Linked DNA regions of Homo sapiens: region 2 is reported to be linked to region 1. The links are microRNA targets in miRTarBase. Many come from high-throughput screens and were not tested one by one. Region 1 holds a microRNA gene; the other region holds the end of a gene's coding sequence.
Evidence for each region. The annotated mature microRNA hsa-miR-1252-3p reads CAAAUGAGCUUAAUUUCCUUUU and lies in region 1 at 2,917-2,938, shown strand. An mRNA with a match to its seed (bases 2 to 7 or 8) in the 3' UTR can be bound and repressed. Matches are read on the target gene's strand: a 7mer-m8 pairs with bases 2 to 8, a 7mer-A1 pairs with bases 2 to 7 and ends in A, and an 8mer does both.

Region 1 (4,400 bases):
ATTTCATGTCCAAATGCTTCTTAGAAACATACAACCTTATTGGCATTAACATTTTGACATTTTATGTATAGATCCTCTTCTAAATAGAGTTTAGGTTTATATTCATATTATTGTAGTAAAATAACAGATGATCACTATTTTTTCAAAGATTAAAAAATATGACTCAGAAAAATGCGAGCATTGGTAATTTAGTTTTGGGCTTTGTCAAATATCTTTTAAAAAACTCAGCTAATAATACACTAAGGCTTCTCATACATAATTTGTATTGTTGATTAAAACCTAAGAATGGAAAGAAAAGGCTAAGTCTAATTTTTTTGCTAAAAGAATGAGTAAAAAGTAATCAGCCATGTTAATATTTCAAACAGCAAACTATTTGAAATGCATTTCTGCTTTGAAAGGAAAATTTGAGATGAACAAGTTCTATTATACACTATTGATAAAGAAAGAAGATATAAAAGGTACAATATACTCTTAAAAATGATTGCACTTTCAAGGAAACATAAAAGAATAGCTTCTTTTTTGGCCAGTAAGAAAACTGAAGCCCTGTGTAGTCATAAATAGCAAAAATACAACGAAAATCCTAATATGTGTGTGTGTGTGTTTTCTCTTCTTCAAGATTCCTATAATATCTAACAATGATATATTTGTAACTTACTCTGAATTGCAAAGCATGTATCAATTGTCAGTTATCAAAAGTGTCTCTGAAAATTTGAGGTAGCAAAAAACAAAGAAACAATGAACATGTTCATTTAGTCTTCCCTGCTTTTACAATTTGTCATTGAAACCTGTGTCTTCCTCCTAATCATATTTTCTTAAATTGTACTTTTATTTAGGATTTGGTGATTGAGAGTTTGCGTTTTCTGTTTGCTAGTTGATTGCTTAGGTGGCCAGGTGGTTGGTTTCTCTTCATCCAATTGCATACAATGTATTTCTAAAAGGATTTTTAAGGAAATGTGGAATATCATGTAGTAATATGCCCTGTTGCTCATTCCTCCTAAATCTCTCTCTTATCTCCACCTCTGCCTCCTTTCCCGCAACCTGCCTTGGTTTAGGCCCTCACCACTTCTCTACTGATGACAACAGCCTCTCAAAGCCCAGCCCCCTTGGCTCCTGCCTTGACGTTACTACCAATGGCCTCATCCTAAAGCAAAAATCTCATTATGCCTCTCTCCTGTTTAAAATATTTAATTGGTTTTAATTAGCTTCTCACTACCTTCATGATGAAATTCGAATTCCTTAGAATGCTCTGCAAGCCCTTTCATGACAAGGTCCAGGCCTGCCTCTCCAAATGGCATCACTTGTAAATGGCATCATTTACCCTATGCTCCAGCAGTAATAACACTATGCATTCACACAGGGGAGGTTTTGTGGGTGTCAGTGCTCTCCCTGAACTGTCATCATAGTATCCCCCCACTCCCACCCCCCACTTCAACCTGGAGAACCTCTAAAGTTGTGCTTTTCTGTTTTTCTTTTGCATATCATGTCCTGAGAATCTTGTTAAAAAGACTTTACTTCTGTGGGCCTAAGATGGGGCCCGATGTTCTGCATTTCTAATCAGTTCCCAGGCAATGCTGGGAACACATATTGAAGACAAAGCTGAAAAACCTTACTCTACCGTTACTCCCTCTGTGAAAAACTCTCCTGCAAAGCTGATCTACACAAAGCGTCCTCTTTCTAATGTTTATGACTTGTATATAGAACATGTACAGGTCTTCTTAGATGTCTCATGTCTTATTTAATTACTTGGTTATAGGTCTGTCCCTGTAATCACTTGTCCATCATCAAGGGCTGGAACAGTGACTGCTGCTCCTTGTAGTCCCAGCGCTAACATTTGGTCCAGATGTATAGGAATTTCCTAGAAGTATTTTGCATGGAAATTAGCGAAAATTTTTCACTTGGTGCCCGAATGATCATTTCATAAGGTGTTGTTAAAAATGTCCACTGGATGGAAGGTTACACTAACTTTTTAGCTCTCAAATTCGTGGTTTTTCTTTATGTTATTGACAATCTCTCCAATGGGGTTTTGGTTAGGGGGAGGCTTAAAAGTAATTGATTTATGATTCTTTTAACCAACATGTAAGTCAAGAGGCTGGCCAAGAGTTTGAAGAGCCCGAACCTGTTAGACAGTAAACCAATTATCTTTGTGACCTTGTGGGTGACTTCACCACCCCCACTGCATAGCACAGCCCTGCCTGTTTCCAAAACACCTGGCCTTGCACAAAAGAATGAAGAAAGAGCCAAGGCACAGAGAATATTCTCCAGCAGAGAGTTTGGGCAAGAAGTCTTAAAGATGTCTGAGTAGAGAGACAATTAGTGGAAACAAACATCTGTCCAAGGTCTCTCCCATCATGTCATGAACTTGACAAGAAAGGCCAGCAGTAACTCTTCCAACCGTGGTAACCAATGGCCCTGAAATGTGTTCAATATCAGGTATATCAGAGCCCGAGAGATAAGAGTGGTTTTCAATGCTGTATGCACGTTAGAATCACCTGGGAAGTGATATTTGTAAAATATGAACACCTGAGGCCCCACCCCAGAACAGCTAATTCAGAATTTCTGGGGGAATGGCCAAGGGGTCAGTAGATTTTAAAACTCAGGTGATTATACTGTGAAGCCAGAGTTAACAACCACTGATAGAGGGTAGTACCTTCTTCCCCTATAGGTGCCTCAGAAGTGAACATCTAACTTCAGCTTACACATCCCACTAATTGACCACTGAGTCTTACTTATTTTAGGCAAAACGAAACCAATAGAAAGTTTTGCCTTTTCTCTATGTAGAAGGGACTAATGATTCTATAAGAATTTTTAAATTTCTACTCACATTTCCCATCACACAGTTGTTGAGAAATTGGTAAGTTGAGAAAAAATGTGAGGTGTAGAAAGAAGGAAATTGAATTCATTTAGAAAAGAGAATTCCAAATGAGCTTAATTTCCTTTTTTCTAAATCTTAATAATCTACCTTGCTTTTCTTCTCCTTCCACTGCACCCTTTCTCCATGAATTCATCAGTCATAGTGGTAAGCTCACAGTATCCGGCAGCAGGTCAGGTGGGATCACACTGGCTAACAAAGGATCTGAGGGTACAATGCAGAAGTTGCCAGATAATGGGATTCAATTACATTTCTAAGCATAGACTTCTCCAGTGTTGGCTGTTACACTGCCCAATGTGGAAAAGCACTGCTTTATCTACATGGCAAGTGCTTCATACATTTTAGTTGAATCTGACTCGGAGTACCTCAATTTTTTTAATGAAATATTTGAGGTCTACAATAGTAAGTATAAATAATAATATAATGAAGACTCTTGTACCTATCACACTAAAGAAATAAAACCTAACATCTATAATCAAAATAGCCTATGTCCTCTTTATCTCCTTTCTCTCATTCTCTCCTCAGAGGTAACTGTTACCTTGAATTTATGATTCCCAACCCTGTTTTCTCATTTTGTTTGTCATTCCAATGTATGTTTTTATGACACACACAGTTTTGGTTTTGTATGTTTTCAGCCATATAAATGGCACTTTACTGTATGTATTTTGTGCATTTTCAAGCTTTATATAAATTGTATCATATATCCTTCTGCAACTTGACTCCATATTTCATTCTTGGGATGTATCTGTGTTGATTAAAGTAACGTTGTTACTTTTTATTGCTGTATAACATGCCATGGTAGGTAAATACCCCAGTTGGTCAGCTAATGGATTTTTGAATTGTTTCTAATCTCTTGCTGTCACAGACAATACAACATAGCTCCTTGTGCAAATGTGGGTGAGTATTTCTAGATATTTACATAAGAGTGGGATTGCTGGAATGTAGGGTATGCACAATTTTTAAATTTCCTAGATGTATTAAATAACACCCCAACCAGAAGTGTGTGAGCTTTCCTATTGCTCATATCCTTGCCATGTTGGCACTGTTAGACTTTTAAATGTTCAGCCAATTTTAACTGGTGAGTTTTCCCTTAAAAACCCTGAAGAGGGCAGCATATCCTGGTAATTGCTGCATCTTATACCTGCATTCCAGTTTATGGGTCCCTCCCTTCTTTACTGGTTGAAATCCTTTGACCTCAGTTACTCTTCAACCCACTCTCTCACCTCAGTCAGCTCTGGGCAGTATCTTAGAAGGACAGACAATATAACACTATCTCAAAGCTGAAAGTTACCTCCAGCTTTTTCATTCCACATTCCTGGCACACTTCTGTCCTCTGACAAGGAGGAGGTAGGGAAACAGAAACAAGTCAGTCTGGAATTAAAACACTTTTTCCAGTTCAAAGTAGCACAAGAGAGATATGATGTGAGTAGAGAGTAGTCTTCCACCATTCTAAAGCAGTGGTTTGTAATCTAAATAGAAGGGCATTGCACACTATCAAAAACTATGCTTATGTAAATGGGAGAAATACTGA
Region 2 (4,400 bases), not on the chromosome of region 1:
AATACAAAAAATTAGCTGGGCGTGGTGGCAGGCGCCTGTAGTTCCAGATACTCTGGAGGCTGAGGCAGGAGAATCGTTTGAATCCAGAAGGCAGAGGTTGCAGTGAGCCGAGATCGCACCATTGCGCTCCAGCCTGGGCGACAGAGCCAGACTCCATCTCAAAAAAAAAAAAAAAAAAAAAAAAAATCAGGAGGTTTTTGTTTTTTTGAGACAGAGTTTCACTCTGTCACGCAGGCTGTAGTGCAGTGGTGTGATCTTGGCTCACTGCAGCCTCCGCCTCCCAGGTTCAAGCAATTCTCTCCTACCTCAGCCTCCCGAGTAGCTGGGATTACAGGTGTGCACTACCACAGTCGGCTAATTTTTGTATTTTCACTAGAGACGAGGTTTCACCATGTTGACCAGGCTGGTCTTGAGCTCCCGACCTCAAGTGATCTGCCCTCCTTGGCCTCCCAAAGTGCTGGAATTACAGGCGTGAGCCACCACGCCCGGCCAAGGAATCAGTTGTTTCAGAAACAAGAGCTTATTAGATACACTGAAGAGACCTACTTGAACTATATTTTGCTTTTTCAATCCAGAATACCGGGCTAACGAAGATTTTACTGGACAAGTTTAACTTCCCCTTCACCCTCTGAACAATCACACTATCTGCCTTTTAGAAATGCACTGCCTGAGGCTGGGTTTGGTGGCTCACACCTGTCATCCCAGCACTTTGGGAGGCCGAGGCAGGTGGATCACTTGAGGTTGGGAGTTCGAGACCAGCTTGGCCGACATGGGGAAACCCCGTCTCTACTAAAAATACAAAAATTAGCCGGGCGTGGTGGCAGGTGGCCATAATCACAGTTACTGGGGTGGCTGAGACAGGAGAATCTCGAACTCAGGAGGCGGAGGTTACAGTGAGCCAAGATTGCGCCACTGCACTCCAGCCTGGGCAACAGAGTGAGACTCCGTCTTCAAAAAAAAAAGAACAGAAATACACTGCCTGTTCATTAATTAATGCAGGCAGCTAAGGCCTCTTCTTTTTTCTTTTAAGAGACAGGGTCTCACTGTCACCCAGTCTGGAGTGCAGTGGTGTAATCACTGCAGTGGCTCAAGTGATCCTCCCACCTCAGCCTCCCTAGTAGCTGGGACTACAGTTGTACACCACAGCACCTGGCTTAAATCCTTTATGTGTGTGTGTGTGTGTGTGTGTGTGTGTGTGTGTGTGTAAAAATATGTGTATATACCTGAGGCCAGGATTTTGAGACCAGCCTGGCCAACATGCTGAAACCCCGTCTCTACTAAAAATACAAAAATTAGTCAGGTGTGTTGGTGGGTGCCTGCAATCCCAGCTACTCGGGAGGCTGAGGCAGGAGAATTGCCTGAACCTGTGAGGTGGAGGATGCAGTGAGCTGAGACTGCACCACTGTGCTCTAGCCTGGGCAACAGAGCAAGACTGTCTCAGGAAAAAAAAAAAAGAAAGGAAAAAATGTGTTATGTACACACAGAATTGTTGTAATGGATTGAATCATGAATATCCTTGGCAAGTCTGTGACCTCACAAATGAGTGTGAAACCAGTAACTGAACGGAGATTCATGGCAGAGCTGGGCTTTTGCCAACGGCAGCCTTGCCATGGCCCTGATTCTCCAGGATGGGTGCTGGGAGGTGTGGCTGAGGGTGGTGCGGCAGGACACATTTTAAGAACATGTTAAAAGAACTGTGAGATGCTATCAGAGAAGCAGTCTCCTCCCAGGTTAGCAGGCAGGTGAATCATGAGATCAGTTTCCCTTTCTGGCACACGCGGATAGGGCACGGCAGAGGCAGGGACCACGCTGAGAACAGAAGAGCCTCAGAGTCAGTGTGTGGGCTCAGGCAGGAGGGACTGCTGCATGAGCTCTCGATGGCAGGGGCTTTTGGCACCCAATGTCGTATGTGAGCGGCTCTCCATACACAGCTGGCATGGCCCAGATGGAAGGGTGGGGGCCCTGGCCCGCTCAGAGGAGATGGGCAGCAGCGGTCTGAGAAACACCGCAAGTGGCGCTGTCCCCGGGAGGCCCGGCGGGCTCTGCCCAGCGCCAGCCTCGGCCTTGGTCTGCGTCCCACCTACGCCGAGCCACCCCCAAGCTTCCCCAGACAGGACCATGAAAACAGCCGAGAGAGCAATGACTTAGTGTGTGAAAGGCATGGATGGATTTTATTGATTACCCTATATCTACAATTTGAGGTAAAATAGAAGCAACACATAAAAGGGCCTATTTCTGCTACCATGTCATATAATTCTCCATTGTGAATATTGTGATAAAGCTACTGAAAACTATGCCGTCACAGAGCCTAGCTTCTTGTAGAGCTGGTATTTTACAACTCGCATTGCTTGTGAAATCTCAACACATGTAAGACTCTCCTAGGAAGGCGCAGAACGTCAGAGGTTGCATCCTTAGCCCCCTGACCCCTCCTCACTCCCCGCGCTGGCACCTCAGGGTTACAAGAAGAACTAGGAAATAATGCCGGCCACGGCGACCCCTGGAGAGGGGGCCGGCTAGAACAGCGTTCCTAAGAATCCGCGCCACAGCAGGTCCCGCGATGTTGGGGCCTTAGTGTCATCGAGCTAGCCCCAATCCTCAACCCGATCTTCAACTTCTGGTACACCATGCATTTTATTTGGACGAAAAGTAAAAGTGGAAGAGGTTCTCTCTGTATTTCCTCTATAATTCACACGCTGAGATACTGACCTCTGACTGTTAGGTGATCCAGATGGTTTTGCTTTTAATTATGATAAAAAAACATAGGAACCATGAGAGATAGCTTAGGAAAAGGTTTAGTCAAATATACAGATAGGAACTGTTCACTCAGTCATTAAGGAGAGCCGTGAACAAAGGATCATTTAAATGATTTTTTTTTTTCAAATAGAAAAACTAAAGAACTGAACTATCACAGGAATTTTTCTTCACTGCAGAAGCTGAGATGTTCCAGTAGGAGAAGTAGGAGATATCTTCACTTGATTGGAAAATAAACACCGTAACTCAAGGCTCTGCTGAGTACATAAAAAATCTGGTGAGATTCATTCCTGTCATTTTCCCTGTCATTTCCCAGCATTGCTGTAAAATCCTGATAGTACATTCCCAAGTACACCAGCCATTCCAGACCCACAGTCACTCTGCTCTTTAATTCACAGAACTGCTGAAAAAGTAGACATTTCTATCTAAAAGTAGAAAAAAAGGTTTGTATAGAAGGTATTTCTGTTATACAAGTATATTACACAGCTTGGGGTAGTAACAGGTCCGAAAAGCTCTTCTCAACCACTGATACTTTAAGCTAAAATAGGAGAGAAAACAAACAAGCAAGCAAAGAGGTTAATCTAATTACAGGAATTTAACAGTCACGAATATCACAACTTAATTTGCAAATTCAGGTAACAATGACTTGGATTCAGAAGCACTCATAAAGCGGGATGAAACCTTAAGTCCATGAGCTGACAGGGTAAGGCAAATTCCAGTACAAGTCTCTGGATTAAAAAAAAAAATCCATTGTCAAAGTTTCCTGACTTCGGGTCTCAAGCTACTGCTCCTATTATAACTTGGCCAAATTTAAGAAATCTGGACTAACAGGATCAGACTTGTTAACTCTGCAAGATGAACAAAAGATCTGCAGCTCTGTGAGACTCTGCAAAATACTATTACTATGGAAAAAAAAAAGTCAGTCTAATGATTCTGACTCATAGTGAATTCCAATGAGGAGGACAACGTTGACTCTATTTAGAAACAGAACATTCTTTTTAAGGCAAAAGTGCTTTTACATCTTTGACTGAGAGACATATATTGATCCAAGGAGAATCTCCCTGTAGAATCTTCTAGCTTAAATATCCGGGAAGGCTCCCACCTGGCTCCCACATTCCCTGAAGGCAGGGCCACCATCTTATGTGAAAGTGGGGAGATCACATTAGCTACGCGTATGCAGGGGGTTCAGATGGACACCACACAGCATCCCTGACACAGAAGCTGATTTACCCTAGGAGGGAAGAGGTCTACCACGTGGGGTCTGGTTCTTGCTTGATCTGAGAGCTTCCATCAGTCTCTTTTATTTCTATCAACAGAAACAAAACGGTACCGATTAATTATTTTGCAGACCTGCTCAGTGATAAATCCATTCGTACCAAACTATTTACTAAGATATGGTTTAATAAGAAGGACAAGACACCAAACATCAAAAGAGCTTCAGAGAGACATCTCTTTAGCAATACATTCAAAATTTTGTTACTTATGTTTTCAAAGTAACATACATCTTCTGGCTTACATGCATTTAAAGGACACACGTTAGGTTATCTAGGTTATGTAGCAGAGTCATTCACGGAGAATTTACCAAGTCATCTGGGGGAAATGGAGCAAAAGCAGCTATGCGTCATCACTCAACAGCATAACCTGCAAAT

Region 2: the mRNA of GTF2I is a reported target of hsa-miR-1252-3p. Seed matches in the 3' UTR shown: 7mer-A1 at 2,860-2,866.

The regions. Positions count from the first base shown.
Region 1 is chr12:79,416,380-79,420,779 of GRCh38, forward strand. MIR1252 (microRNA 1252) reads left to right here and starts at 2,878; the gene lies at 2,878-2,942. The region is part of intron 9 of SYT1 (synaptotagmin 1); the gene reads left to right.
Region 2 is chr7:74,758,437-74,762,836 of GRCh38, reverse strand. GTF2I (general transcription factor IIi) reads right to left here. Exons shown (of 35, transcript NM_032999.4): 34 at 3,982-4,057; 35 at 2,145-3,289. The coding sequence ends at 3,999. Among named protein-coding and RNA genes, the nearest start is that of NCF1, 13 kb to the left of the region's middle.